Linked DNA regions of Homo sapiens: regions 1, 2 and 4 are each linked to region 3. Evidence: fine-mapped expression QTL. A gene starts in region 3. Each other region holds a variant in brackets. All regions are shown on one strand. Distances are between the middles of the regions. Region 1 overlaps TMEM272 (transmembrane protein 272). Region 2 has its middle 40 kb from the start of CCDC70. Region 3 holds the start of TMEM272 (transmembrane protein 272). Region 4 overlaps TMEM272 (transmembrane protein 272).

Evidence for each region. PIP is the estimated chance that this variant, and not a neighbour inherited with it, causes the effect.
Region 1: its variant is fine-mapped to the expression of TMEM272 in Th1 cells (Schmiedel 2018, PIP 0.94).
Region 2: its variant is fine-mapped to the expression of TMEM272 in whole blood (INTERVAL, PIP above 0.99).
Region 4: its variant is fine-mapped to the expression of TMEM272 in whole blood (TOPMed, PIP above 0.99). The same link has a PIP of 0.9 or more in Th17 cells, blood mononuclear cells, naive CD4 T cells and naive CD8 T cells.

Annotation. Positions count from the first base shown.
Region 1 is chr13:51,817,437-51,825,631 of GRCh38, reverse strand. It overlaps TMEM272 (transmembrane protein 272), which reads left to right. Exons shown (of 5, transcript NM_001351003.2): 4 at 3,495-3,577. Among named protein-coding and RNA genes, the nearest start is that of DHRS12, 17 kb to the right of the region's middle. The variant GCTTTTTTTTTTTTTGCT/T (reference allele first, on the strand shown) is at 3,928.
Region 2 is chr13:51,898,058-51,906,252 of GRCh38, reverse strand. It overlaps a transcript of TMEM272 not described here. Among named protein-coding and RNA genes, the nearest start is that of CCDC70, 40 kb to the right of the region's middle. The variant G/T (reference allele first, on the strand shown) is at 3,315.
Region 3 is chr13:51,841,076-51,849,270 of GRCh38, reverse strand. It overlaps TMEM272 (transmembrane protein 272), which reads left to right and starts at 4,094. Exons shown (of 5, transcript NM_001351003.2): 1 at 4,094-4,255. RefSeq lists an enhancer at 1-93.
Region 4 is chr13:51,808,569-51,816,763 of GRCh38, reverse strand. TMEM272 (transmembrane protein 272) reads left to right here. Exons shown (of 5, transcript NM_001351003.2): 5 at 1-3,417. The coding sequence ends at 13. LOC107984561 (a long non-coding RNA gene) reads right to left here. Exons shown (of 2, transcript XR_007063805.1): 2 at 2,932-3,607. Among named protein-coding and RNA genes, the nearest start is that of DHRS12, 8.5 kb to the right of the region's middle. The variant G/A (reference allele first, on the strand shown) is at 4,775.

The sequences.
Region 1 (8,195 bases), 24 kb after region 3:
AAAACAAAAAAGAAGCAGCTCAGCAGGCCCAGTGTTCTAGGTCCAAGCTCACAGCATATTGGAGCAGAAAGTAAAAGAGCATAGGAGTTGTTGCAAAACAGCAACAACGAAACACCCAGTACCCTAATTGCTTAATGGGTAGGAGCCTTCCTTTTGAGGTGATGAAAATGTTTTCGAACTAGATGGAGGTGGTAGTTGCACAACACTGTGAATCCACTAAATGCCACTGAATTATTCACTTTAGAATGGTTTCTTTTGTTATGTAAGTTTCACCCTGCCACCCCTGCTAAAGCCACAATACTAAAAATGGAAACAAAAACAGTATCCTTAGATCTGTAAGACATGAAAGCTAACAGCCTGACAGGAAATAAAAAAGAAGATAAGATTTTAAGGTTTGCAGAGAACTGAAACAGCCAAGTAGTCTGGGGCCATTTAGTGTAAGAGTGAACAATTCAATCACTTCAGCAGGCCCTGGTGCTGTGATTATTACAGTGCAATTCAAAAATTAACACTTATTATATGGCTCTGTTCTTCCAAGAAGAGTTCACAAGATGTTAGGCATGCCCTGCTTATGAAGTCGGGGGTACTCTCCAGAGGGCATTCTATGCAAAATCTGTAAGGTAAGAGAACCCTAGCCTTTGGACCCTGTGGTTAGTTACCTTTCTTTTTGCTTTCTTTTGAGACAGGGTCTCACTCTGTCGCCCAGGCCGGAGTGCAGTGGAGCGATCTCGGCTCACCGCACCCTCTGCCTACCCGGCTCAAGTGATTCTTGTGCCTCAGCCTCCTTAGTAGCTGGGATTACAGGCGCCCACCACCATGCCTGGCTAATTTATATATTTTTAGTAGAGACAGGGTTTCACCACGTTGGCCAGGCTGGTCTTGAACTCCTGACCTCAAGTGATCTGCCCGCCTCGGCCTCCCAAAGCGCTGGGATGACAGGCATGAGCCACCGCGCCCAGCCAGTTATCTTTCAAATGAACTTAACTGCAACAATTCATCCACCAATAAGGCTGCATAAAAGAGACAAGACCCCACAAGCCAATTCCCATGGATATTATATTAAAATCACCACATCCACTGCGGAAAGAGGGTTTTGGAGGTGTTATTGCTTCTAGAGCAATATTGGTTATAGAGTTTGTGTTTGGGGTGATGAAAACATTTTGGAAATAGATAGTGGTGATGGTTGCACAAGATGATGCATGTAATTATGCCGATGAATTGTACACTTAAATATGGTTAAAATGGCAATTTTTGTTGAGATATTTTATCACAATAACAAATATTTTAAAAATCACTACATTTGGTAGTTGTTATCAACTGAACTAGGGAGAGATCTAAAACCAAAAAGAATAATCGTGATACTGCAGATCAGACAAGAAAGAAAATCTAGAGTTAAGGTAGGTCCTAAGAAGTACATGAGAACACAGGGGGAAAGATGGCTTTTATTAAATTTATTAGGATCGTTTTAAGCCATCTGTGCACTGATTGACTCTCCTGTGAACAGCAGCTGTTTTTATTCATTGGGAATGAGCAGATATCTAAGCCATTACTCAATGTTCATTTCACAGCTGGCTTTTGAATTGAAAGGCAGTCCATGTCCAACAAATTTGGCACCAAGTACTTAAAGGTCTTTGTGTGAAAAGGCTGTGTTGAGACTTGGAAAGTATTTCCATTTAATAACAAATTCACCTAAACATCAGAGATAACTAAAAGACAAGCCTCCATAGGTTGATGATTGGATCAACGTGTATATTTGACTAAACTCTGTTTTGGGCCCTGAATTTATGGCTCTCTGTATACCTAGAAAATTTTGTTCATTTCAATGGAATATGGTGTAGTCATAGAAAAACAGTTTACTCCCTCTGCTTAAGTATCAAGGCATTTATAGGGAATAAAATTCCAAATCAAAGCTAAAAGTCTAAATGTCATTTAAACAGGAGGCTTTGGTTCTACAGTAAGAATTCCCTTTCTTGGACTCTGTTGACAGATGTGTTAGTCAGGGTAACTTAACTGTGCTACAGCCACAAATTAACCCTGGAATCCCAGTGGCTTAACACTGTAAGAGTTTATTTCTTGCTTACGCAAATTCCATCATGGCTCAGGGGGCATGGGGACTTCTCAGGCAATGTGATGACATAATAGTCCAGTCTGCTTCAATCTTGAGAACAATCCATCTCCACCCATGGTTTCCAGGTGGTCAAAGCAGAGGAAGCAAACAACGAATCATGTATCAGTTTTTAAATGCTTTGGCCTGGGCTGGGCACAGTGGCTCAGGCCTGTAATCCCACGCTTTGGGAGGCCCAGGCAGGAGGATCACTTGAGCCCAGGAGTTTGAGAACAAGCTGGGCAACATAGTGAGTCCTTCTTCTCTACAAGAAAAAAAGAATTAGCTGTGCATAGTGGCACATCCCTGTGATCCCAGATACTCAGGAGGCTGAGGTGGGAGAATCGCTTGAGCCTGGGAGGTTGAGGCTGCAGTGAGTTGTGACTGAATCATGCTACTGCACTCCAGCCTGGGCAACAGAGCAAGACTCTGTCTCAAAAAAAATAAATGCTTTGGCCCCAAGGTGTCCCACAGCCCACTGGTCAGAACTGGTCACACTGCCTTGCTACCCAACAAGGGCACATGCTGGGCAGTCAGTGTCTCCCATAGCAAAGGTGTGTGTTAGAATTCATCTGGAGCTTGGTTGTTTGAGCCAGACTGGTCCCTGAGGGAAATGGGCATTTCTTCTTTATATGTTAAATAGACACATCATATCATTGGTTAATAGGTCTAGGGAACAAAGACCTGAGAAAAGTAGACAGAGCATTGCTTTGGGGAGAAAAACTACCATTAAGAAAGGGTAGACTGGGTAGGCTGGCTTGGTAGTACTCTGTATCTGGTAGCTAAGGATATGTGAGTACACGCGTGTTTCCCAGCATGGGGTCCAGCGAGTGGCATGGTCAATGGTTATCATATGGTGACTGTGACTAACACGGCAGAGGGCTTGCTGCACAGGGAGGAAGAGCGGCTCCTCCCTGCCACCTGGCCCCTGGAAGCAGAGTAGATGAGAACCTCATTCACGCAGAGTCACATTTTGGAAATGTGACTCATAAATTGAACCTTATTTTAAGCATATCAAGAAAACCGTATATTTAAAGGGATCCTTTGAATCCTGAATCCTTGAAAACTTGAGTTCTCATACACTGGCTATTCAGAAAGGCAGAGTGCAACCCATAGCCAGTTAATACCCAGAAAAAAGGTGCAGCGACACCTGGTCCCTGCCCTGTCTGCGGGAGTATTTATCGCCACTCCGCTGTGAGAGCCATTTCTGCGGTGTCAATCCACTGAGCTTCCTGAGGATCAGGTGACTGGTGAGGCTGAGCAGATCCCACAAGCATATGGTTTGCATGATTAACATTTTGGCTTTTGAAGGTGTTCCACTCATTTTCAAAACTGGGCTTTGTGCTCTCGAATGTATTTCTCTCAATCCTCTTCTGTTTGCCCTATGTAGGAATGAAATTTTTGGAGGACTGCCCTATACAGCCCCTCATTCCTTTATATTTGCTAGTGGGTGGCATCGTCGGTACCTTAAAGGTAAAGTATCTTTATCTGCTGTTTGTAGTCCTTGTAGAAATTAACTCACAGGCATCCTGTAATGCACCTGTTATTTGCCTGCTATTCACAGGGGAGACAAAACAACTTCCCCCTAAGCGTGGTTGCTGAAGTGATGGGGCTAGCTCCAGAGACACAGATTTTTCCAGATGCAGGGCATTTACCCAGGGCTGTGCATATTTGCAAGAGCTTCCTTCCTGCTGTTGAGTTCAATGTGCTAAGCTGTGGCTTTGGTCTGACAAGAGTTGATGCAGAGGAGTCCCTGACTGCCAGTTATACCATTGAATTCAGCCAGTGAAATCATGGTCTTTCTCTGCGCTGCTGCTGCTGCT[GCTTTTTTTTTTTTTGCT/T]TTTTTTTTTTTTTTTTTTGAGGAAAAAAAAGCTTCCTGTTGAAGGCAGGGTTTGCATTTGGTTAAAATATGTTTGATTTAGCAGTTCCTATTTCTGCTTTTAACTATACTTCCTAGTTCTCAATTGACTAACATAGGATTAATTGGCTGCAGTTATCAATCAACTATTAAAGTATTCTTATGCCTGAGGTAGGAGTGCTTCTCTGTGACTCTCAAGGTTATGTAGTTAATCTGCTCCTGGGCTGTATTGACATTTGTTTAAACAGAAAAAGCAACTGAAGAAGAAATATCAGGGGCGTGCATAGCCTGCAATTGTTTTCAAGATCCCTGGCCCACAGAAATGTTACACCTACCAAGAGAAGCTTAGGTCAGCCTCTGTCTATCAACAACTCTTCCCAGTCTTCCAAGCCCACCTCACCACTTTCTATATCAAAGCCAGAAAACACAAGCATCCATTTTCCCAAGATGGTTTCATAAAAACAAAGCCGTAACACAAGAGAAAACTGAGTCAAGAGTGCCAAGTATGAACTCTCATTCGGACCCAGTGTTGGGTTTCTTTGCCAGCTGCCTTCTGGTGCGGGGATCCTTGGAGAGATCCTGGCCAGTGGCGCTGGTCATGCTGTTGATCTAAGACATCAAAGGAACGTCTTGAAAATTGCTGTTCTCATATGCAATTGGTAGCCACAAGCTCAACTCTGTCGTGGGAGACGTCTGATTTGGGGCAAACCTTAGGAGGCTTTTGTGTTTGAGGTAACCTCACTGTTAAATGTCCCCATCTCCTAACAGCAATCTGGTGGGCAGTGTCCTAAAATGTACAAGTACACACAATCATCCCCATCACAACATCCCCATGGGATCTACCTGGGACTCTGTTCAGCTCCAAGAAAACCCAAAGGCTCTTGGCTCAGCGGGGCCACATTTTCCCCATGGCCCCCACAGTGTTAAGGGAAGGCTCTAACGGTTTGAGTGCCATAGAGATGCTTAAAACAAGGGCAGCGTTTTCAGCAGTAATTACCTCTGCCTCTCCTGTTCTCACTCATCGTCAAGCTGCCCAGCAGAACTTTCCTTTAGAGATGCTACTGTCCGTGGGGTCTGTTCCTCTTAAAAACAGCAAACTTTTCCTTTCTGAAAGCCAGCCCAGGACCCAAAGGTAATTTATTTTAGTGAACAAACTAAGGCCCTAATAAGCAGCATTGATTTTTTGCCCTGGCAATCTAAAACCGTTTGAAGCCAAATTAAATTTTTGTGCTCATGATGGCAAGGTAATATACAGTGAGTCCATAACCATTAGAGCAGCGGCAAACAGGATTAGAGTCCCCAGAGGCAGAAGTTTGCCTGTGATAATGATGGTTTGTATTCAACCTCAGAACCTGCCTAGGGGGTCCCAACATCCTTCGTGAAATGCATCAGATAGCTTCACAGTATTGCATTCTATGAAGAGAAACTTGAAGAGATGTGAGCTGACATTTCATGGAGCTACCAGAAAGAACTGAGGGTCATGCCCCATTAAAAGATCAGGAAATGAATTAAGTAGGCTGTGTGTGACCTGCTTTTTAAAAAATAAAATAGAAAATTAGAGTGCCTAGTAAGTTAAGTATTGTGTGATACTTACATATGGACATGTGTGTGTTTGGGTGAGTTGACCGTGTAATTTATCATCCTAACTGGGACACTTTTGAGAGTACAAGGGGGCTCTAATAATCATCCTGCCAGAGCAACAGCATAAACCAGGACTTCTCTAAGCCAACAAGGACATGCAGTTACCCAGTGACTAGGACCTGGCATAAAATGTATTTGTTACTGAGGGTCATGTTAAAAGACAGTTTCCAAAAGACGGATTCAGTGACCATTGCCTACCCTGCACTCCCCCTCATCTTCCCACATCACCCTTCCTAGTGGCAATTGCTACCCCTAGTAAGCATGTGCTTTTTGCTGATGCCATGCTGACGGCTCTGCCCTCATTTGGAATTCATTCAGTCCTCACCGTGCCCCTTTGAGGCAGGTACTTGCTTCAGGAAGGATTCTTTGACTACAAGGAACAAAAAATCAACTCTGGCTAACTTAAGAGGTCATTGATTGGAAGAGCTCACAACCTCAAAGGTTAGTGGGAGAGAAGGGGGCCAGGTGGCTCCAGGAAGCCTGGGCAGTGGGACCCACTTGCCACGGCTCTTTCCTTGGGCTGGTTCCTTTCTCCTGGCATCATTGTAGCCAAGAACCAGTCCTGGGAGGGCAGCCAGATCTGGGGACACGTGGTGGGTGGGGGAATTCCTCCAAGGAATGGGGCCCTGCAAGGAAGGGAAATGCATCTGAGTGATGGAAACTTGAGCTGGACTCTCAGTTCCAGCTTACAGTGAGGAAACAGCGAGCTGGTGTTCAGCCTGGGCTTTCCCAACCACACAGCCACCGTCAGCCAACCTACTACAGGCAATTGGTTTTTCCCCTACCCTAAACCCACCACCCTTCACCTTTGCCACACCACTCCCCCTCAGAGGAGGACCCTCGCACCTCTCCTTGTGCATAGGGGTCCCAAGTATGCCCCTTCTTCCAGGCAGCCCTCCCTGGATGAGTCAGCTCTACTGTGGGTGGCTCTCTGAACTCCCCCAAGGCCTCACTTTCCTTTTCTTATGGAGATGTTCTGCCTCCCAGCCGGGCTGCAAGTCTTAGGCGAGAACCCTCCAATTTAATTTCCTCCGATTTAATCATCAGTGTACTGTGGTGTAGACAGTGGTCAAAGAGGTGTGGACCACTGCCCTTCTCATTCTCTTACTCACTGTGGATCTCAGTGAAGTGACTTAACTTCTCTGAGCCTTAGTTTCCTCATTTGGGCAACAGAGATAATACGCGGCCCCAGGCTAGGATGGACATTAAAGATCACACATACCAAGCATTAAACTAACCACTCTCCTTAGGTTTTGTATCTTTACATAAGTAATAACTCTCCATTTTGGAAAATCAGAGAATGCAGATAAGCACAAAGAAGAAAATCAAAATCATCTGTAAATTTCACCACCCAGAGAAAATTGCTGTTGACATTTTGGCCCAATGGCTCCAGTTTTGGTCCTGCGCCCATGTTTATTTAGTACCTCTAGCCTCAGGCTGGGAGAATTCATTGAGATAATGTATGTCAAGCGCTTTGCCCAGCACCAGGGTCTATTTTTGTACAACATCCATTCCCAGAGTCACTATCACCTCCTCACGGGTAACCCCCAGATCTCTGCCAGGAGTCCTCACCTCTCTCTGTTCACCTCCAGGCTCTGACTCTGCCCCCTGTGGGCCACTAGACCCTGCATTTCCATCCAAAATTTTAAATGGAACAAGTCCAAATCTGGAGTTATCACCTACCCAAGGCACAGCTTGGGGTTCGCTGTTCCCATCTCTCTGTCTCTCTTTATTTTATCCTTGCTTCTCTTTACAGTTTGGAGCCCAGTTAGCTGCATCTCTTGGCTCCTGCTTGCCCTTCCATTTCACTCAAGCTCAGCATCTCTCCCCGCCTCTGCCAGTCGGCCACATCCTCCGTCATCCAAGGATTCTTTCTAATGCCCTGCTCTCCAGGGTTAGGGGTGCCATGAGTGTGGCCTCGGGAGAGATGGGTAGCCTAGGAAGCCAGAGAGAGCAGATACACAGGTCAGGCTTTCAAAAACATCACAGATCAAGTTGCTAGGTAGAGAAGACGGGGAGCTGTTAAGGCATTCCTTAGCAAAGACCACCTGTGTCCTTCCACCGCTGCATTTCCAGGGGGAAAGTGTGCTCCCCTGTGACAAAGGCATTTGTGGCCAGTTAGAGTCGGGTGGGTCGTGGTGCTTTGTGTAACCAAGTGGCAGCAGAATTTCGAAGGCGTGTCAGGCTGGAGTCAGGGACCATCTACCAGGGGCCCAGATGGTCTGTCCCCCAAGAGTATCACTCCCAGGACAAGGGTCTGTGCTCTTGACTTGAAAGATGTACGAGGACTGAGAGGGACTCTCAGTCCACAGCCCCACTTGGGAATTCCAGATGCCTGAGATGGGCAGTGGTACAAACTTCCAAGAAGAGAGAAAGCAGGCTGGGCGGGGCTGGGGTGGGGAGGAAACGGCTCACGGTACCTGGATTCGGCCAAGCCTGTTACATGGCCTGGAAGTACCAGGGAAAAGTCTGCTAGGGGTTCCTCCCAAGACAGAGGGATATATTTCAAGGTCCTCTAGCATGCGGACCAGGTGTCATTTTTACATTATGTGTGGGTGCAAATGTGCTAGCACAATACAGGAGAGAGTCAGT
Region 2 (8,195 bases), 57 kb before region 3:
GCACTCAATAGATTATTTCACCCTTTGAATTAGATGCCTCAGGGAGTCCCCTTAGCGGGCTAAGTTAACCTTTGCAGGGGGTACTGACATGCCCAGGTACAGCCCAGCCCTGCATGCTGCTCTTTGCTCCAGGGACCCCAGCCTGGTCCACCATTTGCTAGGAGAAGATTTCAGTCCCTCCAGAACACACAGCCTGTAAGGAGCCACACTGGCTCCCAGAGCCCGAGCCCCAAGTCATCACTGGGTACAGTGCACGTTCCTCTGCTGTGCAGTGGTGGAGCTTCATCCTGGTGAGTCATTTGTTCTGCGTCTAGGTGTCTCAGTGAGACTCCTACCTGTCTGCTTCAGAGCCACAGGTGAAGCCTTCATTCTCAATCCGATTGAAGAAGAGAAGGCGGCATCACAGCTGAGTTGCTCTCCATCATAGAACCATGGGGCATTGTCCTCAGACACACGCTGACATTAACCGAGGCTAATGAGGCAGAGCCTCTCATAATAGCATTCTGTTTCTTTGGAAACCAAGGTGTAGTTTTTTAAGTGTCGCATGGCCCTTGATTACAATTTGCATTTCCTAGCACTTATTCTACCATTTTTACAGGGACCTGTGGCAGGCAGAGGGGCTCTGGGCAGCTTCCCTGCAGGATTCCACTTCCTGCTTGGGTCGACCGCGCCGCTGCGAGGGAGGGCTTGCCCCTTGCCTCCCTGCTCTCTGGGTGTTTCCTTTGTGAAGGGAGGGACCTGGCATGCTAGAAAGCATCTCAAAGCCCTGCTGAAGAGGAACTCCGGCTTCCCTTGGGTTGCTCTGAAGAAGGTGCTCTCCAAATGAGAGGGCCTCAGGAAGACAGTGGCATCTCCCTGACTGGGTGAGTCAGGTGCAGCTCTAGCCGAGGTGAGTGGGACCTGCCGTGTCCGAGGTGGTGACAGCAGGCACTGAGACTGCTCTGGAATCATGGCTCTCTGAGGTTGTTGCTCTGAAGTCCTGCCTCTGGGCCCTCGTCCAGTGTCGTGACAGCTCTTTTCTCTGGAAGAGGGAGGACAGTCTCTCTCCCTGCACGAACTGCCTTCAGCCTGACATTTCTTCTCCTGCTTAGGGCCGTTCTCTGTTGACTGCTTCGTGTTGTCTGCTGTTTCTCTTAGCTCAATGCTTCTCAACGAGGGTGCTTTTGACCTCCCCCAGGAGCATTTGGTAATGTCCACAGATATTTTACACAGTAACTACTGGAGGTGTGCTACTGGCGTCAAGTGGTTGGAGGGCAGGGATGCTGTTAAACACCCCACAGCACACAGAACAGACTCCCACAGCAATTATCTATTCCAAAATGTCAGTACTAATGAGGTTAAGAAACACTACTAATGATGATGTTCCCCTACCTGGTAAATAAAATTCAAGGTTTTCAGCCTCCACATCAGTACAGAATGAATGTTTCTTAATTGAAATGCTTGGAGCCAGAAGTGTTTTAGATTTAGGATTTTGGAATATTTGCATTATATTTGCTGGTTGAGCATTCCCAAACTGAAAATCTAAAATCTAAAATGCTCCAATGAGCATTTCCTTTGAGCATGACCTTTGAGCATCATATTGATACTCAAAAAGTTGCAGAATTTTGAGCATTTCAGATTTTTGGATTGCTCAACCTGTACTTTTCACAATATCTTGAAAACGGACCATGCTTATCTTTTCTCTTTTGATCTAGAGCCTCCTTCTTTTCCACGTCCATACCATGAATTCCTATTCAAGCCCAGAGAAAATTATTCATTACTACTATGCATTAGCTGCTGAAGGCCAGGTGATGTTTTCCCAGATCTGACTCATCATGATCATGATCATCAATTATCATTATCATCATCATCAACAACAATTACCTTAGGGTCATCATAAGAATTGCATATAAGCTAGCCACCAAGCAGTCATCAGTCATCTGCCTTTAGCCCAGTGCTACCTGAATTCAGTTTCTGTCATCATGTATTTCTTAATTTCAAAATAGGCAGCAGCACTAAATCTGGTCCATGGGCTCATTAACATCATCATCATCATCATCATTAATATTACCATCATTGTCATCATCACTGCAAAGCAGGCAACAAGCAGTCATTAAGCTCATGCTGATTCTGATGCTGATGGTGAATGAGAAGCAGCACTGCAGAAAACCACCTCATGCCTAGCATCCCAGGGCCACAGGTGCTGTGTGTTAGATTGAGTGTTCACTTGTCCAGTGTGAATGTATTTTTGTTAAGAGTTATTGGCCTTTGAGTTTCTGGTGACCAGATGCTTCTTTCTAAACACACACACACACACACACACACACACACGTGGAAGACTGTTGGAGAAACCCAAATGGTGTCATAGGAGGCAGGTGTGAGAAGACACTTTGGTTGCACAACCAGGTATGATTCTGCCAGAGCAGAAGACCCTATATGGTTCTCTTTTCTGCCCCAGCACTGCCTCATTATGGCTATGATAGGTTTATTGAAGCTAAAGTTTGGGCATTCTGGGGCAGCCTTTGCCCCACACCCACACGAGTCTTTTTCATTTTTCGGTTGCCACTGAAGTCTGGAAATAGCACTCTGCCTTTTCCTCTGGCCCCATAGAAACCGGGACTTCTGGGTGTTTAACTTAGCATCTGACTCCATTAGATGCTCAGGGTCTCCTGCACTTACACCTAGGGATAGGAAAAAGGGGTGTTCTGGGGAGAGTAGGGGGAGCAGTTTGCCCTCTATTTGGTGGCTTTCCTTGTACAGTGGAGAGAGCAGCCAGAACCTGAAGTGACAACTGAGACATCGTCATCTGACGTAGAGTCTCTCTTCCCTCCCTGACCTCGTTGGTGTGCCACCTCTCCCTCCCTCCCATTTCCAACAGCATGCTTAGGAATGAGTTATGAAGTGTCTTATTGGAAACCAAGACCTCAATGGCAATGAAGGGAAGACACTATAGTTAGTTATTATTGATCATCTCTACCTGCACTTTCTATATTTGCAAGCACTTTTTGGGACTTAGTGAGTAATAAATAAAGTGTCTCTAGATCACCTTGCTGCTTCCCACTGCTGCTGCCTCGTGCATCCAGTTCTAGTTGTGTACCTCCTGGATACACACACTAAGGAGGTGAGACCTTCAAAAGAAATGCAAAATATTTCCACAATTGTGTTTGTGTACAAACTGACCTGTCAAAACCAAAACTATATTTAGGTACTAGATTATAATCAACACCCCCAGTGGATGCTATTGGTGCCTTGCCCAGGGCCCCTTTACCAGGCGGATGCACTCATCTCCCAGCTTTGAGTATTGCTCACCGCAGCCACCTGCTTCCTGAAGAATT[G/T]CCCTTGCAGAGCAGAAGCCACCATGCTAGGAAGTTATCCACTCCCTCGGCATCACATAGCCAATAACCAATTGCTGTCAGGGCTGTGTTAGTTATCTGTTTCTCAAAATAAATTACTCCAAAACTTAGTGCCTTAAACGGACAATGAATATTTGTTATTTCACAGTCTGTGTGTGTCAGAGATTTGGGAGCAGCTTAGCAGAATGGTTCCCGTTTGGGTTTCTCAGGAGGTTGCCCACAGACTGTCCATCAGGGCTGCAAGTGACCTGCAGGCTTGACTGAGGCAGGTGGCCTTGCTTCTGGGGTGGCTCACTGGCCTGGCTGGCAAGGTGGGGCTGGTTGTTGGCAGAATGCTCAGTCCCTCTAACCATGGGACTCTCCCAAGTTCAGCTTCTAGAGTAGCTATGATAACATACTTTCTATAAAACCTATATTCTAAAATGTATTTAATAAAATAACTTTCCTCTAATTTTTAAATCTGCAACATTGCAGCAGTTCATTTTAGACATTGAGAGGCTGAACATTTTAGATTCTGGTTCTAAAGGCATGTGGGTGCCCTCAACATCAATAGCAGCAGCTAATAATTCCCAAAGCTTTTCCAGGCGCCAGGCCGTGAGAAGGGCAAAATGTGTTGTGATTCTGTTGAAGTAATGCCTACCACCCCTTCAGTCCCACACTGAAAATGTAACAAGGCAACTGGGAAACTGTCTTCAACATCAGTGCTTTTTTTCATTTTGCTTCTCTTGATTTTTACATCTTACAAAACTGAGAATCCACCTATATTTATTCTTTCATCCAATGCACGTTGGCTTCTGACCTCACCCCTGAAATGGCTTCTCCAGAGGTCTGCAGTAACCCCCCTGATACCACATCCCAAGTGATTCTTTTCAGTTTTTTTATTACATGACCTTTCCATGGAGCTTGACCCCAGTGGATAACTTCCCAAGCTCCTCCTCCTTGAAACTCTCCTCTCTTGGATTTTGAGCTTGGATGACAGAGTGAGAAAGGCCTGGCGTTTTTGCTCTGGACTGGGTAACCCAATGAAGCTATGTGGATTTTCTGCACAAATTTGGAATGTAAACACACCCAATGGGGCTTCTGCCCAGAGGATTGTAGCTAGGCTGGGCTGGAGGTAGGGAAAGCAGGGAGGAGGCTACGTGTTTGTGGGAGGAGGCTGATAAAGCCTGAACTCGGGGAGGCAGTGAGCCTTAGGAGAGCAGGTAGATTCTAGATACTTAGGAGAGCCACTGTCACAGAGCTTTGTAAAGGGACTTGGGATGGAGTGGGCACTGGGGGAGGGCAGAAAGGAAAATAGAGACACTGAAGATGTGTCCAGGCTTCTCCGGGGGTAGTTAGTAATGCCATTGACCCAAGTCAACTGATGTATTTCTGTGTTTTTGTTGGATTCTTCTTCATTTTTGACTTTCCTTGGCTATATGAATTTCCAGAAGTACCTGTTCCAGGGGCAACTGACAACTGAGAGGGGTGTGAGGCATGGGAGGGCGGGTGGGGCACAGGCAGCTCCACCGGGCGCCACCCCTCTAGCAGGAGTGGTTTCTTTATATGTACCAGGGATATTTCTGCATTGAACTCTAGACCATGTGGAACTTGGCTTTTTAGCAGGTCAAATGCCAGGCACAACTTTCTAGCTGGACCAGATGCAGCCACACTCAGGAACCGTGCTTCATTAAAGTGTGTGTGGACCCAGGTTCTCTTCCTTCACAATTTTGTGAGTACAGATGAGGTTGTGTGGACATTAACATCACAAATATGAGAAGGCTGGGCCTCACTTGAAAAAAAAAGAAAAGTTTTATTGAGATATAATTCACGTCATAGATGTCACCCCTCTAAAGTTTATAATTCAGTGGTTTTTGGTATATTCATAGAATTGTGCAACCATCACCACTTTAACATTTTAGAACATTTTCACCACCCTTCTCTCCCACAAAACTCTGTACTCATTAGGAGTCATGCCTTTCTCTTTCCTGGCAACCTTGTATCTACTTTTTGTCTCTACAGAATTGTCTATTCTGAGCATTTCCTATAAATGGAACCATAAAACGTGTGGCTTTTTGTGTCTGGCTTCTTATACTTAGCATAATGATTTAAAAGTTCACCTGTGTTGTAGCATGTATCAGTAATACATCATTCATTTTTATTGCTGGATAATAATCCATTTTATGGATATATCACATTTTGTTTGTCCACTCATTCGTTGATGGATACTTGGGTTGTTTCCATTTTTTTTTGGCTACTATGAATAATGCTGACATGAACATTTGCATACAAGTCTTTGTGTGGACTTATATTTCATTTCTCTTGGAGAGACACCTGGGAGTGGAATTGCTAGGCTATTATGGTAACTGTATCTTTACATTAACATTGAAGAACTGACACATGGGCTGCATCTTTTTTCTGATCCCATCAATGATGCATGAGAGTTCCAATTTCTCCACATCTTCACCAACACTGTTATTGTCTGTCTTTTTTATTTCAGTGCATATGAAGTGGTATGTCATTGTGGTTTTGATTTGTATTTCCTTGATGATTAGTGTTGAGCATCTTTCCATGGTCATTTGTATATCCTCTTTGGAGAAATGTCTATTTAACTCATTTGCTTATTTTTAAATTGGGTTGTCCTTTTTTTGTTGATTTGTAAGAGTTAATTTATTCTGGACTCCAGTCCCTTATCAGATCTGTGACTTGCAAGTATCTTCTCCCATTTTGTGGCTGTCTTTTCACTTTCTTGATTATGTGCTTTAAACCACAAAAGATTTTTATTTTGAAGAAGTCCGATTTACATTTTTTTTCTTTTTTTGCCTGTGATTTCAGTGTCTAAGAAACCATTGCCTAATTCAAGGTATAAAGATTTATTCCCAGGTTTTCTCCTAAGAGTTCCATAGTTTTAACTCTTGCATGTAAGACTATGACCCATATTGAGTTAATTTTTGTATGTGGTTTGTAATAGGAGTCCAACTTCATTCTTTTATAGGTGAATATCCAGTTGTCCCAGCACCACTTATTGAAAAGACTGTTCATCTCCCATATGATTGCCTAGGCTTGTCTAAATCAATTGTCCATAAAAGTAAAGATTTATTTCTATTCATAATTTAATAAAAATGTAGTTCTATTCCATTAAGCTACATGTCTAGCCTTTTCTAGTGCCATGCGGTCTTAATTACTATAGCTTTGCATTAAGATCTGAAATAGAGAAACTTGAGTCCCCCAGTTTTGTTGTAAGATTGTTTCGGCTATTCTGGATCCCTTGCATTTTTATATTAACTTTAGGGTCAGTTTGTCAATTTCTACATAGAAGCCAGATGACATTTTTGAGAGGATAGTGTTGAATCTGTTCATCAATTTGGGAAATATTGCCGTCTTAATACTTAAGTCTTCTGATTCATGAACATGGCATGTCTTTCCACTTATTTAGGCCTTCTTTAATTTCTTTCATGATATCTTACAATTTTTAGTGTATAAGACTTGCATTTTCTTTGCAAGTGCCAAATGTTGCTGATTAGAAGTACACTGGAAAAACCTTTCAGTCGCTATACCCTTTTCTGGCTTTTATTACTGTTTTTAATTGACACATAATAACTGTATATATTTATGGGATACAGTGTGATTATGAAGCCTTGCACCTATGTTGTTTATCTCAAGTATTTTTTCTTCTAGATGCTATTGTAAATTGTTTCCTTGATTTCATCTTCAGATTATTCATCGCTAGTATATAGAAATACAATCGATTTTTTATATATTGACCTCATATCCTGCAACTTTACTGTACTTGTTCATTGGTTCTGAAAGCGTGTTTTGTGGATTTTCCAGATAAGAGATCATATCATCTGTGAATAGAGATAGTTTCATTTACTTACCATTATTCTTACTAAATGAATTAATAAGTAAGAGCTGTGGGAGTAAGACATGCAGTCTAGACAGTCTCTAGAAGGTGGCCTTGACAAGGCCAGCAGTGATCAGCAGTGGATGAGAACAGGTTTAGTACTGTGAGATTGGAGCAGGGATTGAGGCAGAGAAAGTGAGGAGGAATGACAGGCAGGTACAAGGTAGAATCAAGTGAGTGGTAGATCAGGAAATCCTAGATAACAGGTTGCCGGTGGCACAGTCATTTTTATTACCTTTTTAGCATGCTGGGTGCCTCTCCTGGAACACATTTAAAGGACCCAAAGGACTCCTTCCAACAGTGCCGTCTTAGCAGGAAAAAGATATAAGTCTAAGCCATTCTTGTTGGCTTTGTGCAGCCAGGATAGGCTGTGAAGTAGGCAAAGGGCAGAAGAGGAGAGAGAACTAACATTTATTATCTAGTATGTGCCAACATTTTGCATATATTGTTTAGTTTAACCCTTACATTACTCCTACTTTTGCAAATGTGAATCTGATGTTTGTTTTGTAAAACATTCAGAAAATGCATGATATTTATGTAGTGGTAGCTGCCATCACACCATAAGTCAGTTGCCCATTTCTCCATCCATGAGGCAGCCATCCTCTCTATTATAAGGAGCTCATTTCTCAATTAGTTCTTTGAAAACTGAAAAGCATGTAGATATAGAACAATATCCTGCATTAGTGCTTCTTAACCAGGAGTGTGTCAGGAGAAAAATCCCCAGGAGTTTCTTGTATTTCTGCATGTTTATGAGCAGGGGCACTGCACTTTTGTTCTAATTATCTTTTTATTTTATTTTATTTATTTATTTATTTATTTTTGAGATGGAGTCTCGCTCTGTTACCAGACTGGAGTGTAGTGCCACAGTCTCTGCTTACTGCAGCCTCTGCCTCCCAGGTTCAAGCGATTCTCCTGCCTCAGCCAGTAACTGGGACTACAGGTGCACGCCACCAAGCCTGGCTAATTTTTGTATTTTTAGT
Region 3 (8,195 bases):
GTCATACAGCATTCGCCTTTCTGTGGCTGGCTTATTTCTTAGCATAATGGCCTCAAGTTTGCAGCATGGGTCAGGGGTGCCTGTCATTTAACTCTTCTTCTTCCTGACTGTGAACTAGTTGTGGGACCATGCATTCTGTTTCTCTTTTTCTTAAATTGTCCTCAGGAAAATTAAAATGCTGGGAAAAGTCAAAAGGAAAATGAAAACTTATATTGAAATGCTTTTTGACTCAGGTAGAAGTCGAAGTGAGGGACCCTGAAGGTTTTCTCCCAAATTAGGAAGCCGTCAGGATGAATAGATGGTAAATATAGAAACGGTGACTCAAATAGAAGAGTGACATCAGAATGGAAAACTTCCAAAGAAAGCATGAAAAGAATTAGGATGTTTACATAGAACTAATTTGTTGGGGAATAACACACAAGCAAAGACGAAGACAAAGACAAACTTTTGTGCAATCTTGGGGAAGAGTGAGAGTGAACACTCATCAGTGTCCCTTGGCTTTCTGATTGCTCCTTTTGGAGGTGCACAACCTGGTCTTTGGGCAACTTTAGCATCTCCCTTCATTTCTACAGCTTCCATCAAGAAGTCAGGCCTACCCTCATTAACTCACAGTTGCCTTTGTAATTAAACTCAGGCACGTGCTCATTCACTCACTACTCTTTTGCATCAAAATTCCTTATAGGATACATGGATTTTATTAAGTAATCTTTTTATTCACAGTATCTGGCTTGGAGTCAGCAGTATTCATTCAATGAATGAATGAACTCACTTTTATGAGGAGAACCACCTCAACTAAAGACAAGCATTTAAAAATTTATACTCTGAATTCAACTTTCACTCAATTCTACTATCATCTCCCCTAATGTGCCCTTTATTCATATGGCAATAGTGGAGTGGTGCCATATGTGGACTCTATCACGTGGCCTGAATTGAAGTTCATTACACACTTAGTAGCCATATGCCTTTAATCTCTGTACCTTATGCTACTCATCTGTGAAGTGGGGGTATTAATCGCACCTACTTTGCTTTGGGCAGCATTTCCAGTGGTGGTCTTCCACTCACATCTCTAGGGTTAGCAACTGCTTCCACTGTCAGTTGCTAATCTCTGGGTTACTCCACCACGACATCGTGCATGACTTTTCAGCTCTTCCGTGGCTCTTGTAACTAATTCCCCATATCAGATTCCCCGTTTTTCTTAACTGATAGAGCTATTATTACTATCATTTATCATTACCTTTGGAGTCTCATAATCACTTTCCAAAGACTCCTACTTTCTCCCCCACAAAAATCTCCTATTTCTGTACTCATAAGTACAGTTGTCTGTTGGCAGAAAAATATTCTTTGATGTTTTGCTGCATGTTTGGGGACATGTGGAAAAGCTCCTGAGTGACCTGCCATTGTTTTCTCCCTTCCTGAACTCCCAGGAAGACTGCCTCATCACCTGAAATTTTGTTTGTTTTGATGTCAGGGCTAAAATGTGCTCAAAAAAGACTGCTGCCCCTTTTTGGCCACGTCCAGGCCAGGCTTATGGTCACCGTGTGCTCCCAGACCCCCACCACTTTGGCAGGGAAGCCTTAAGACTCTGACCTCACTGCTCACAGTCACTCTGCTTCCACTCACTCAGTGTGAGATAAGAGAAGATTCAAGTACCGTCATGTATCACTGAACCATGGGTATATGTTCTGAGAAATGTGACATTCGGCAATTTTGCCATTGTGTGAAGGTCATAGAATGTATTCACACAAACTCACATAGTATAGCCTACTACACACCCAGTGGTCCCCAATCTTTTTGGCACCGGAGACCAGTTTCATGAGGGTGGGGATGGGGAAGGTTTTGGCATGAAACCGTTCAACCTCAGATCATCAGGCATTAGATTCTCATAAGGAGTGTGCAACCTAGATTTCTGGCATGCACAGTTCACGAAGGATTTGTGCCCCTGTGAGAATCAAATGCCGTTGCTGATCTGACAGGAAGTGGAGCTCAGGTGGTAATGATTGCTCACCTGCCACTCATCTCCTGCTGTGGGGCCCGGTTCCTAAAAGGCTAGGGACCAGTACTGTTCCCAAAAGGCCAGAGACCATGGCATGTTACTGTATTGAATAATGTAGGCAGTTGTAACACTGTGGTAAGTATTTGTGTATCTAAACGTAGAAAATACTACACATAGTATTTGTGTATCTAAACATTGTGTACAGTAAAAATAGGATATGAAGGATTAAAAAATGGTGCACCTGTATAGGGCATTTACCATGAATGGAGCTTGCAGGACTGGAAGTTGCTCTGGATGAGTCAGTGAGTGAGTGATTAGTGAATGTGAAAGCCTAAGACATTACTACACACTACTATAGCCTTCATAAACACTGTACACTTAGGCTACACTACATTTATTAAAAATATTTTTCTTTAATAATAAAGTAACCTTAGCTTACTGTAACTTTTTTACTTTATAATTTTTTTTAATTTTGACTCATACATTAGCCCATACATTATACATACATTACATTAGCCTAGGCCTACACAGGGTCAGGATCATCAATATCACTATCTTCCATCTCCACATCTTGTCCCACTGGAAGTTCTTCAGGGGCAATAACAGGCAGGAGCTGTCATCTCCTATGATAACAATGCCTTCTTCTGGATACCTCCTGAAAGACCTGCCTGAGGCATTTTTACAGTTAACCTTTTTTTAATATATATAAGTAAAGGAGTACACTCTAAAATAATGATAAAAAGTATAGTATAAATACATAAAGCAGTGACTTCGTTGTTTTTTATTACTGTAAAGTATCATGTGCTGTACATAATTGTATGTACTTTACTTTTATGTGATTGGCAGTGCAGTAGGTTTGTTTACACCAACATCACCACAAACACATCAGTAATGTGTTGCACTACAACATTATGACTGCTATGACATCACTAGGTGATAGGAATTTTTTAGTTCCATTATAATCTTAAGGAACCACCATCTGTGTGGTCCATCATTGACTGAAACATTGTTATGTGGCTCATGACTGTGACTGTATGTCCTTTCCTCTAGCAGGCTCTCCTCCCCTTGCTCCTCTGCTTCACCCTGTCCTGTGGTGTGAAGTGGTCACCTTGGATTCAGGACTGGGAGAGTGGCAGGGCCAGCCCTAGAGTGAGCCCGGAGAGGTGCCCTCCTCCCAGGGGTGTGCAATGCAGGGGTAGCTTCAGAGGGAGCAGCTCCTTGCATTTTACATAATAGGCTCTTCTCTTGCCTCACACCAGTCCCTCCCCCAGTCCCTCCCCAGTAGACTGGCCTTTTCCACCGAAATGACAACAAAAAACCTGGAATGTCAGGGTTGGAGAATGCCTTTAAGTCATGTGACGCCAGTTTCTCTAAGTGTGGTCCATGGAGCACCTACAGGAGACTTAGCAGAGTCTAAACTGCAGATTCCTGGGCCCAGGCCCAGACCTACAGATTGAGAATCTTTGGGAGGTGGTACAGGAATCTGCATTTCAATAAAGAATCTCTGGCACTTCTTATAAATCAGCAGCTGAGAACTTCTACTGCTAGGTGCTTGCTTACAATACAGACACACAACAGCCTCACAAAGCAGCCTGCTTCAGGTCTAAGAAGGCCACTGTTACAAAGTTTATGACATGGGGCACAATTCAGCCTTCTTGTAACTTCATTCTATCTCAGATCTGGCCGTCTGCAATGACTCGGAATCAATTTAATCCCTTTTCTACGTGGCAGTCCTGAAGTCCATAGGGCACCTCTCATTACCTCAGCCCACTTTGAGTACCTTCACACTCTTTCCTAAGCAGCCGCTGTTCGGTCCACCCTTTCTCGTGTGCCACCAACATGCAGGGAGGGCAAGGGGTGAGAAGGGGCTCGCACCAGAACTAAGTCCCTAGGTTTAGTGCCTAAGGGACTGAAATGAAATGTTTCCCGCGGGAATTCCTAACTCCAAGGGGTCGGCCATGTTTCCACAGCTCCCAGGGTCGCTCTGCTGCCCCCCTGCGGGCCTGGGGAACACTGCAGGGGTATGAGCCGGCGGTGGGGCTGCTCTCCCCACACGTGGGAGTGGGAAATGGAGAGAACCCGCCCCTTAGAGGAAAAGCCACGAGTTGCTGTTGTGCTGCAGGAGAGAAAGGGAGAAAGAAAGCGTGCGACAGGGAGTGGGAGCCCCAAGTCAAGAGGAGCCCCACAGAGGCAGCCCTGGACTTCGGGACCACAGAGGTGCTGAGTGCTGCCCGATTCTGGATCCCACTCTGCTTAGCTCAGGTGAGTCCGGCAACCCTGGGCAGCCTGTGAAGTTGGAGAGACAGTCCTAGCAGAGGGTTTCTTGAAATCATTCTTAGGAAGATGCCAATGTGCTGATTATGCTTCCTGGAAAGAAAATGACTACATTGTGGAAGTGCTTTTCTTAATTGTGTGGAGGGAACGAAAACAATCTTCACTGAGTCTAAGGGAGATGGGTTTTCTGGAGAAGAGAACAATCGTAAAGGAATAATTAACTGCAGGGCGAAGGCAAGTTGTGTGGGACTCTTAGAAACAACCTACCGGCTGCAGGACAGCGAGTGGGGACCACAGGCATCACCTCCATGTCTTACCTATTGGGGCTGTGAGCAAGTGGCTTTGACTTGGTCATTTTAAAGGGGTGGTAGAGCTCAAAGGAAGTGCATTTTTCATTTCCTAGGAGCCAAACAATGAAGGCATCCTAGGGAGGTTGTGGAATGACTCTGAGACACAGTAGGTATGCGATAACCTCCACTGAATTCATGCATTCGGGCATGGTTAGGAGAGAAAACAGCACAGGTTACACAGAGAGCTACAGATAAGAAAGGACTGTGTCCTGAGCACCCGAAATGTTTGTTGAAAATATTCAACAATACTAGTTAACATCTGCTTTGAAGGAACAGGTATGGGGATGGTTAATGTCTAATATTCAATGTTATTCAAAACCAAGAGTGAGTTGGTCCTCACAGCTGATTTAGGAATAAATAGTTTAATTTACCAAGCCAATCAGTAAAAACACAATCATATATATATATGTGTGTGTGTCTACACATACACACATATATATACATATATATATGTTTACTGTTGATTCATGACACAACTCAGAGGTTAACAAAAGTAGAATTTTACAAATTTGAACTCTAAAACTGGGAATGTTAGACAGACATAGAAAGTTTCTCAGACCTAGTCCTATTGACATTTTGGAGCAGATAAGTGTTGTTGGGGACTGCCCTGCTCCTTGGAGGATGTTTTTCAGTATCTCTGGTCTCTTTATCGACAGCCCTGCTCCAGCCATGACTATTAAAAATGTCTCCACATATTGCCAAATGTGCCTTGGGGATCAGATCACCTCTGGTTGAGAACCACTGAGATATATCAATTGGACTGAAAATTGAAAATGCATTGAGCATATCATTTGGCAATTATTATTGATTAATTCCCATCGTGCCCTTTATTATCACTCAGCTGCTAGGAGAGGAAGCAGCAGGGGCTATTATCACTGCCCTTCTAGGTGCAGAGGCAGGTGTGAGACACACAGTCCTATCACAGCATGCCCAAGGATAGACTTGTAAGTCACTGTTTGTTCACACTGGAGAGAAGGCACTGCCCGGCCTGTTACCCCAATCTCTTCCTGTTTCAGATTTCTAACAAATAAGAAAACTTTCTATCAAATAAGAAAAAATGTACGTTTTCTTAGTAGAAGATATAGAAGGTATAGAAATTGACTAAAATCTGTGTCATTACAGATTTTAGTCAATCATTTAATGGATTGCATTGACATGAATCCATCATTAGTATGTATTTGCTCTATTGGGCATCTCTTGCTGTTGAGGGACCCTCTTTTGGAAGAGCTGCCGCTTCAAAGGGCTCCAAGGAACGTGCAGTTTTTTGTGAGTTGTTCAAGTCCCCACCATAATAGTGAATAGGTCTTTTGTAGTGTATTTGAATCTGCAAATTCACACAGTGAATTCTGTGAATCAAAAAGCAGATTCACTGCTATTTTCTCAAATTGCAGCTTTCTTTGTGGGCTTCCTCTGAATTGAAATAAATCCATATCTTGGGTCATAAAAACCAAATCACAAGGGGGAACATACAACTGGGAAATAAGCCTAGAAAGAATTGGCAAAATATCACTGGCAATCAAAAATGTAAATTAAAATAATTAATTTCCACTTTTGCCTATGAGAGTAATAAAAATGCATTAGTCTTTCAGCCACCCAGTGCTGGTTAGGTGTGGTGAAACTGCCACTCTCATATTGCTGGTGGCACTGGAAATGGATACAGCTCATTTATAAGTCAATTTTACCTCAAATCCAAAAAGTTGCTTATGCTTTTTAATTACATAACTATTCCAAGAGATCTACGTGTGCATGAAACAAAGCACTTTTCATGGAGAGAAATGTCTCTTAGGATTACTTGAGTGAAAAGTAAATATCCAACAAGAAGATATAGAGAAATATAGTTTGATATAGCGTACTCTGTGAAATATAATTCAGCTGTGAAAATGAGAGTTCTGAAGACCAAATGGTAACAGAAAGAATGCTTATGTCAAAATGTGATGTGTTCACTTAATGTGCCTGATTATTGCAACCATGTAAAATGTGTGTACATGCACATATGCATATGTATATATGCATATACTTAAAAGCTCCAAAATACTAACAGTTGGGCTGGAAGTTCTGCAGTTGTTTATAATGACTAATGATTTTCTTTTCTCCTTGATCTAATTTTTCTGTGAATTCGCTTTTGTAATTTTTAAAGAAAGTATTCCAAAAGAGAAAAATCTTGCCTACCACCATCACATCATCTCTCTTCTTTTTGTGTCTGCTCCCTGGTGGACTTACTCCTTTTCTGCTTATCTATCTCCTACATGCTACTTTTTAAAAATCTCTGGACTTTTGGAAAGCAAACTACTTTTCATTTCAAATAATACTTCTTGAATTTTAAGAGGTTTTAAAAAGAAGTTTAAAATTATAATGGTAAAACCTGCTAATGGGGGAAAAGGCAAGGCAATATTTGGGTATAAAGTGGAAATGAAAATACTACCCACGCCTGCCTGCGGCACATTCCTCCCTACCCCTACCCCAGCCCCAGTGGCCCCATATCCCTGTACCTGCCTTCATAGGGAACAGTTATTCACAGTGGTTTAGTGTTTATGCTGCTGATCTTTTTCTATGTGTTTACGTAGATCTACAGACATTATTACATGCACGAGGTCATATGATGTGTGTGTGTGTGTGTTTAACATTTTATTCCTTGTAAGGGAAGTTGAACACAATATGCAAAGTTTGTCGGCCAGCATTTGAGACTGTACCTGGGAATTCTGTCTTCCCTTTCGGGCTGGATGCCAAAGCTGAGTTCTACTGCCACTGCTACCTGTCTCTTAGGGAACATTCTTTAAGGCGTGACAGAATTCACAGCACATCATTCTTTTTTTAGTTCTCATCCATCTTGCCAGTTTATGAAAATAACAAGCTTGAAAGAATAAGAGTCTCCTCATTTATAAAATGGATCTAATACCTGCGACTTGTGTTGGTGTGTTCTATTGGCTGCCACCTCTTGTGGTCTGATATTATCAATAAAGATATCACTGTTTTTCAAATTGATGTTTCTACCTTATTTGCAGTTAGTGGCTAAAGGGATCAGCCAATTTAGGACATTTGCATTAAAAAATGTATATGCAGCTCTATTACTTTTTGTGGTGAAACATTGTTCTTCAGGATTCACAGGAGATTAAAGCGTGACCTCTTACCCCAGGGAATGGCCCAAGGTAGAAATGTCTTGTTATAATGTGACACAGACCCATCTCGTTAGTTTCTGCAAAGCTGCTGTGGATTTGAAGACTGGAATGTCTTAGTTTGTAGGCGCTGATAGAAACCGTTCAACACATTTCAAAGGAAGTTTGTAAATCAGTGGCGACTCCACCAGGCAAGTGTAAAGAGATGGCTCTTGTGTCTCCTCCCTCTGTTCTATCCCTTCTGTGATCCAGGAGAAAAATGCTGTGGTTCGTGGCTGGAAGATGTGAAGTACACACTCTCCCTGTTATGTGAAGTGCACCCTCTGTTTTCCCTAAGAAGGGTGAGGAAAGGAACCGACCTTCCGGGCCTTTAGGAGCCGTGATGGGCCATGGCCCCTTTAGATAACTGGGCTTATCACTGGATCCAGGAGGGTTGTTTTTCCAGGCAGGGTTTTAAGTGGCTTA
Region 4 (8,195 bases), 33 kb after region 3:
CGATGAAGACTGACAGCTGCCTTGTCCAGCATACCATGTATGCATATGCGTGTGCATGCACGCGCGTGCACACAGACACACAGACGCACACACACACACACACACACACAGGTTCAGAGAAGGGCATAAAGGTAATAAAACCTTCCCTGAAGGCATTTAAAAAGCCACCCAAAGGCACTGAATATAATAGCAGACTAAAGAAACTCTTGCCTTCCTAGACATGGGGAAATCACTTCTGCTCTTTTCAGAGTGGGAATTTTGTTCTCACAAGAGTTTTCAAAGGGATAATTGTTTTTGAGGGTATGAAGTGTGGGAGGCAAAGAATGGGAGACCTTTTCAAATCATAGTGCAATTTCAATGACTGGTGCAAGAGCAAGGTTGGTTGTTGCTACTGCTGCTGTCATTCAGCCATGGTCACCTTGAAGTTATAGAAAGTGCACAGACTTTCACACAAGATATATCTTAACTTCACTCGCTATGATGGCTTTTGTTATTAAAAGGAAAAAGATATTCTTTTAGTGACTCTAGCTGCCTTTTGGGAAAGTGAAGGAGCAGTCTCTTCCAGCCCTATATCAGATAGGTTTGACGTGATGGGTGGAACATCCCAAGGTCAGCTATAAAATCTAACAACGTCAAAGCAGTAGCTTCCACATAGGGGGCGGGCTGGCCTGCTACAGGCATTGCGGAGTGCAGCGCCGTGTGCACCGTGTGCCGCTGCTGCAGGTTCTTTGCTTGGCCTTGAGTCTGTCTCTGCCTCTGGCTATTCAAGTACCTCTCTATGATCTGCGGCTGGCTGGGTGGCATAAACCAGTTTTGTATGTTTCTGGACAGGTTGCATGAGTTGGGGTGCCGTCAGTGTAGCTGTTTTTGGTTTCTGAGCTTAAATATCGAATAATAGCTCCTCAACCTAATGACCAGTTAGGCTTTGGAAGCCTTTTGTAAATTGAGATGTCTGGAAGTCCAGGATGACACCGAACAGTGACCACTAACCTTCCCTCTGGCTGCCGCTGTTGAGAGATGAAGTCCAGGTCTGTTGTCAGTGCTCGCTGGGGAGCCTCTTTATGAGCAAAAAGTCCCATGTTTTAGAATTTTGTATGAAGATACTGTCATGAGTGTTTCTAGGGCAGTGCCCAGGGGTGCGTGGCACCTGCTTAACCGTGCTTCTCTCAGCCACGTGCATAGCATTTCTGTATATTTACACACTGCTGAGCTGTGTTTATTTTTTAACTTTGTTATGTTTTCGTGCTTTCTCATCAAACCAATCCCTGAGTGGCCATGAATGGAGGCACCTCCCTTCATCAGAAGTGTCAGCTCAAACCAAGAGGCTCATTCTTCTCCGTAGCTTTAAGAGAAAGGCCCCGTGAGTCCCATGGGGTCTTCCCATTTCAGTTTAGAAGCACTCCCCGGGCAGTCACCGTTAGTCCCCCTTTCCTCCCAGGTGAGAAGAAAGTGCTTGGTGTGCCATCTGCTGGACAAAGGAAGAACAGCCCTTTTTTTGCCCCTGTCCCTAAGGGCAGTTTCTGTTTTCATTTTCACTTGAGCCATGGCAGAAGACCAGCGGGTGTGCAGTTTGCAGATCCTACCTCACCTATGATGCCCAATTCCATCCTCACTGTGTCCCACGTTGCCCTCTCTGTGTTGGGGACTGGGGAGAGTCTGTGGGCTATGATACTGGGGTGGACAGGAGTTCCATGGGCTCCTCTCCCACCCTCCTTTCCCCAGTCCATGACTCGTCAGCCATTCCCAGTCACTTAGCCAATGCTTGGACATCTGTGAGCAGCAAAGACCTGGGCCCAGGGACACCTGCATGACTCCCACATGAAAGCCTCTGAGGCTTCTGTTGCGAGGGCCTTGGCAAAGGCGGAAAGAGCTGTGAACAACCATGGGCATGAAGATTTCTGTTAGCAGATGGCAGGTACTGGTTAGTGCTTTGGATACATCAGTAGCTAGGTCTCAAACGTTGGACATTCCCAGTTTCTGGTAGGCATGAGTATCACCAGAGTGTTGCAGAAATCTTTCCCAGAGGGAGTGGTGGATGAAGTGTGCTCATTCTCATATGCACCCCACCAGCCCACCCCCAGTTGCAATGGAGAATACTGGTCATAGGTCCTAAATAATTGCTAAAATCTGGACTATATTTTTAGCTTTGAGTTTTCTTGTCACCAAAGCAGTAAGGAAGAGGTGATGATCTCTTTGTATAGGTCATACATCTTCCCTGGTTTGAGGTTACAGTGAGCTATGATTGCACCACTGCACTCTACTCTGGGTGACAGAATGAGACCCCATCTCTAAAAAACAAAATTACCCCCTTCTGGGGAAACAGGTTAGATCCTAAAGAAAATGTTCATGTGCATCCATTCATAGAGGGGACACTGAATGGTTCAGTGGGTGACATCTTCAAGCGCAGCAGGCTTTGAATGATAACTGATTAAGGCCTCCCTCAGGAGATGGTGAGATGGTTATGATAAGGCACATTTCAAGAAAGAGGCTCTGGGGCTAAGTAAGGCAAATGGTCTATAACTGTGGTTCTTTGAAGTCTGGCTTAATCCAGGGATGACACCCAGACTGTCTAGGAAGGGCTGAGCTGCGTGCCCTTTAAGTGATCACCTCTTAGTATAATTTCACTGAGCTGGAGGTGAGTGTAAGAAGTTCCTGGTTATAGAAGAAGTTATAATCCTTGGCATGGCCTGAAGTAGGCAGTCCACACTGATATGAAATGTGCTGTGTATACCTGGAGAATGAAAATGCCCATCTAAGACTGGCCCAAGAGCTGGGCAGCCTTCCTCCATGGGAACCTGGCAAGGCAATGGGAAGTGGACATGGGAACACCTGAACTTTCTGGATGCTATGAAACCTCAAGGGAACAAATTATGTGGCAGAGAGGGATAATCTGTTCTTCCCATCTGAGAAAAGACTGCAGCAAAGATAAACTATATGTTGAGATCATTTTATTTGCTACATCGGGCATCATTCTAAAAACCATTCTTTGCCTGAATCTATATAAATGACAGTTGAAAGCAGTAAAAGTGGGACTGTTTCACTGGAGTCAGCCACACTAGTGGTTCTCAAATCTTGGTGAACCCTGAGAGCTACCCAAGGACTTGTTTGCAATGCAGAATCACAGCCCCCAGAGACTGACTTGTGGGGCCCAGCTGGTTCTGATTCGGTGGCCAGAGAAACCGCATGTGTGCACTCGGGCCACACATACAGCCTGGACTGGCTTATGTCAGGCCCATCCTGGTTGTCACCATGAGGACAATATAATGTCACTTCCAGTACTTCGTGTTATTTCCTTCTCTTTTAGTATGAGAAGTGGCCAAGTGGTCAATAGCTTTCATCTTTGTGTAACTGAATCTTGTGCTTCATTTCCTTCTGGGCATTTTTCATTGTTGATGAAATAAACTTTGTTCAATTTGTTCCCCAGTGTCTTCCTTGAATACCCTGGGGGAAGAGAATCCTCCAGTCCTTGGGATGCTTCATTTGTTCTTTCTTCCAATGGGATTTCTGAGGGTAGAAGACTGTGTCCACAGAAGCTGACAACCTGTTCTAGGCAAATTTTGCTCCATAAAACTCATAATCCTCATAATCCTCAGGTGAGTAGATGAGTCTGTAGTGGAGAATTGAGAAAAATGATCTAACAGAAAATTCTTCTTAGTAATCCTAGTGATAATTTATCTTTTATAAGTATAGAACTAATAAGACAACTAGTCTGTCTTTTCTAGAGCTAGAATTTCAGTAGTTCACTTTTCAGGTTAGCCTAGCATCACAGCAGCTACGTTATCTTGGATATCCCAGGAGACAGCATTTTGCCATTGCAAGCAGAAGAGAAATAAGAGAAGAGTGTTTCCAAATACATCTGTTGTTTTCTCTCTCTCTTTTTTAAGAGATGGGGTCTTGCTCTGTCACTCAGGCTGGAGTCCAGTGGTACAATCAAAGCCCACTGCAGCCTTGAACTCCTGGACTGGGGTAATTTTCTTACCTCAGCTTCTTGAGTAGCTGGGACTATAGGCATGCCACCGTGCCCAGTCAGGTTTTTTTGGTTGGTTGGTTTTTTGTTTTTTGTGGGGTTTTTTTTTTAAGAGATGGGGGTCTCACTATGTTGCCCAGGCTGGTCTCAAACTCCTAGCCTCAAGCAGTCCTCTTGCCTCAGCCTCCCAAAGTGCGCAGATTACAGGCATTAGCCACCTCACCCAGCCCTGTTGTTTTCTCTAAGACACTTCCTTTGTTATACTGGTCAGCTTTTAAAACTTACTGCATTGTTCAGAGAAGTAAGCTCTGCTTCATAGGCAAAGGAAAAGCAACTGGGACTTGCTGCTGGTATTAAGAGTTTGCACATACAGCATGTTCCCAAAAAGGCTTGTGACTCAAAACGTCCCTCTGTTCTGATTACTTCCTACTTACCCTATTGGTGAGGGAGGGGTCCCTGTCCTAAATAGTGGGAGAAGCCCAAATGCAACCCTTCCCCCACTGGACAGATGTGATGGACAGCAGCTTATTAGTCACTAGACTCACTGCCTGGGGGAGGAGGACACAGCATGTTATGCAGGGCCACATGGGGCTTGCACTTGGGAACAGAGTGGACCGGCAGGGGCCGTGGGGGTCATGCCTTGTAGTAGCAAGAGGACCAGGTAACCCTGTGTTCCCATGGGAGGAGTTTCCTGTCTTGCTTGAGTAATTTCACAGACGGGCAGTGAGGGGAAACCCATTAGGTTGGTGGCTGGGTGAGTGGTGGTGACTGACAGGGTACTGGTCAGGTGGGAGACCTTGCCTGCTG[G/A]GTCAGGGGCATGCCTGGTGAGGGCAGGGGAACTCACAGAGGAACTCACAGTTAAGCCCTTGGGCCTCTGTGAGGCTCAGAGATGTCAAGGCAGCCCAGAGAATTGTAGGCCTTAGAATACAGCCTCCTAGAGCCACCCCTGCCTTTCTTTGGCCTTATTCTCTGGGTTATCTAGTCCTGGGTTCAAATCTGTCTTTGAATTTCCTCAACTTCTCAATGCCGGAAGGGAGATATAATCAGTGGTGAGATATACATTGCCAAGGAAGTGAAAAAAATAAAAAAGTCTTCTTGACCACTAACAGTAGCCAGATCAGAACCCTCGCCGCCTGCTTCCTGAGAGCAGGCTGGCACATCCTCTTCTCCAGCCTTCCAGTGATTTTCCCACCACTGCAAAAGTCTTGCTGTCTGATCGGACTCTTGCAAACTGATGTTTTTTACTCTTTATATCTTTTTTTGAGTATTTAAGCTGCTATTTAATACAATGTCCTGTAGCCTGTACCTTCCCATAGCCATCAAAAAGAAAACAGAAAAGAAAAACATTTCCTACATCAATTTACAGTTTATACATTTGTTTATAAGGAAGCCAGTTTGGGTTCGATTCCCAAGTCACTGGGGAAAGGGGTTGAAGCCCAGATTCCCCTGGGATCCCTTCTGGCAGCCCAGCGTCCCCTCCCGCCCCCAGCAGCAGGTGCTGGCGCTAATGGCGCACACCTGCACCCTTTTGTGGGGGCCGCCTTGGTTGACTGGAGCCAGCTGGAGCCTGAGAGTTCTCCCCGCTCCCAGTTCACCCCACCGACAGCCATAGCTAAGGGCTGAGTCGGGGAAGAGGGAGGAAAAGCCCAACTCCCTTGTTTCAGGGCAGGTCAAACTTGAGGCATTTATGCACCAGAGCTGCCCGCGGGATCAGGTGAAAGCAGGGCTTCGTGGAAAGCCACATCCTTTCCCAGCGCTTCCCTTTCCCCAGTGCTTCCTCCCTTACCCTAGTTCGTTTCTCCCAAGGCCACACCCTCAACACATCCCTTATCCCAGAGCTTCATCTCAGACTCTGCTTCCAGGGAAGCCGGCCTAAGCCAGGGTTATTTCTCCACAGCTGGAGGCATGACATAAATTACTAGTATATCCCCTTTTACAACCCTTTTTATTTTCCTAAAATGACAATTTTAAAGCTTTATTTTTATTATAAAAGTGATACATGCTATGGCTAGAGATTCAAATCGTGTAAACGAGTATGAGGTAAAAAGTAAAAGATTTGAAGCACCCCCCCAACTCCCGGTCCCCAAAAAGGTACCCAGTGTTAATTCTGTAGTATCCTTTTGGAATATGTCTATGTATCGTTAAGCATAAATATAGGTACTTTTTACCTACATTATGTCGGACTAGGCTGGGCGTGGTGGCTCATGCCTGTAATCCCAGCATTTAGGTAGGCCAAGGTGGGCGGATCACGAGGTCGGGAGATTGAGACCATCCTGGCTAACATGGTGAAACCCTGTCTCTACTAAAAATACAAAAATTAGCTGGGTGTGGTGGCGTGTGCCTGTAGTCCCAGCTACTTGGGAGGCTGAGGCAGGAGAATCGCCTGAACCCGGGAGGCGGAGGTTGCAGTGAGCCGAGATGGCACCACTGCACTCCAGCCTGGGCAACAGAGCGAGACTCCGTCTCAAAAAAAAAAAGAAAAGAAAAAAAAATTATGTCAGACTATTCATATTATTTGACAAGCTGCATTTTTCTATTTCCTGGATCATGGATTTCTTTCCATTACCAGCGCAGAGCTCTGCCTCAAACACGACTAATATGTATTCATAGGACTTATTTTAAGAGGCTCATCCTCTGTAACTTGCCTGGTCTCTCATTTCTGTGAATCAAAATGGGAAAAGCAGTAATGTGAAACTGTATTTTGACAAATGAACAGCTGAGAGGTCAGTTTGAGAAACTGTTTGCCATTCCTCCTGTCGTGTACCTAAGTAGGCCCCTGGCTGAACTGGGCTCCTAGGGAAGTTCGTTGCAGGGCCTTTGGATTAGGCACATGATGCACCTGAGGGAGACTCACCTGGACGCGACGACTCATCGAGCTCCTGAGAGGAGAGAGGTTGATTAGGGTGGATGCTATTCTCTATGTTCCCCAGGAGTGTGAGAGTCAACAAAATCCCACCATCACCAAGGAAACCATTAAAAAATCCCAGCACTTTGGGAGGCCGAGGCAGGCGGATTACGAGGTCAGGAGATGGAGACGATCCTGGCTAACTTAAAAGTATAAAAAATTGGTCAGGCGTGGTGGTGGGCACCGGTAGTCCCAGCTACTCGGGAGGCTGAGGCAGGAGAATGGCGTGAACCCGGGAGGCGTAGCTTGCAGTGAACCGAGATCACGCCACTGCACTCCAGCCTGGGCGACAGAGCAAGACTCCGTCTCAAAAAAAAAAAAATCAAAGCCACCTACTTAAGGACCAAACTATCCTTCCAATATCGTGTGATTGTGTGAATACCTACAACTGAGATATATTCGGCAACAGATACAAGACGGAAGCAACACCTGAATATTGCAGAAGGTATAAAATGTATGTTGTTACATAACAAAAATTAATAATGTACCACAATGAGGTGCAATCTCATACGCATCAGGATGGATGCCATTAAATAAAAAAAGGAACGAACTCTGAAGATAACAAGTTGGTAAGAATGCGGTGAGCCGGAGCCCTTGTGCAATACTGGTGGGAACATAACGTGGCACAGCAGCTATGGAAAACAGTAGGGAAGGTCCCCCCAAAATTAAAAATAAAATTGCCATATCACCCAGCAATTCCACTTCTGGGTATACACACAAAAGAACTGAAATCAGAGTCTTAAAGAGGTATTTGCACACCAATGTTCATATTAATATTATTCACAATAGCCAAGAAATTGAAGCAATCCAAGTGTCCATCTATGGATGAATGGATAAACAAAATGTGGTTTATACACACAATGGAACACTATGCAGCCCTAAAAAAGAAGGAAATTCTGAAACTTGCTACAACATGGATGAACCTGGAGGACATGTTGCTAACTGAAATGAGCCATCCACAAAAAGGCAAAGTGTGATTCTACTTAGATGAGGTCCCTAGAGTAGTCAAATTCATAGGGATAGAAAGTAGAATGGTGGTTACCAGGGGCTGGGGAAGGGGGCAATGAGGAGTTCTTGTTTAATGGATACAGAGTTTCAGTTTAATAAGATGAAAAAGTTCTGAAGATGGATCGTTGCGCGGCAATGTAAATGTACTTAATATTGAACTGTACACTTAAAAATGGTTAAAATGGTAAATTTTATGTTGTGTGTATTTTACCATAGTCAAAAATAAAAATAAGTAATGTATTCCTCAGTCCTCCCAAGCCTCCACAGTCGCTCAATATTAAATAGCTGGCCAGTGCGGGGTCATTTGGTCATTGT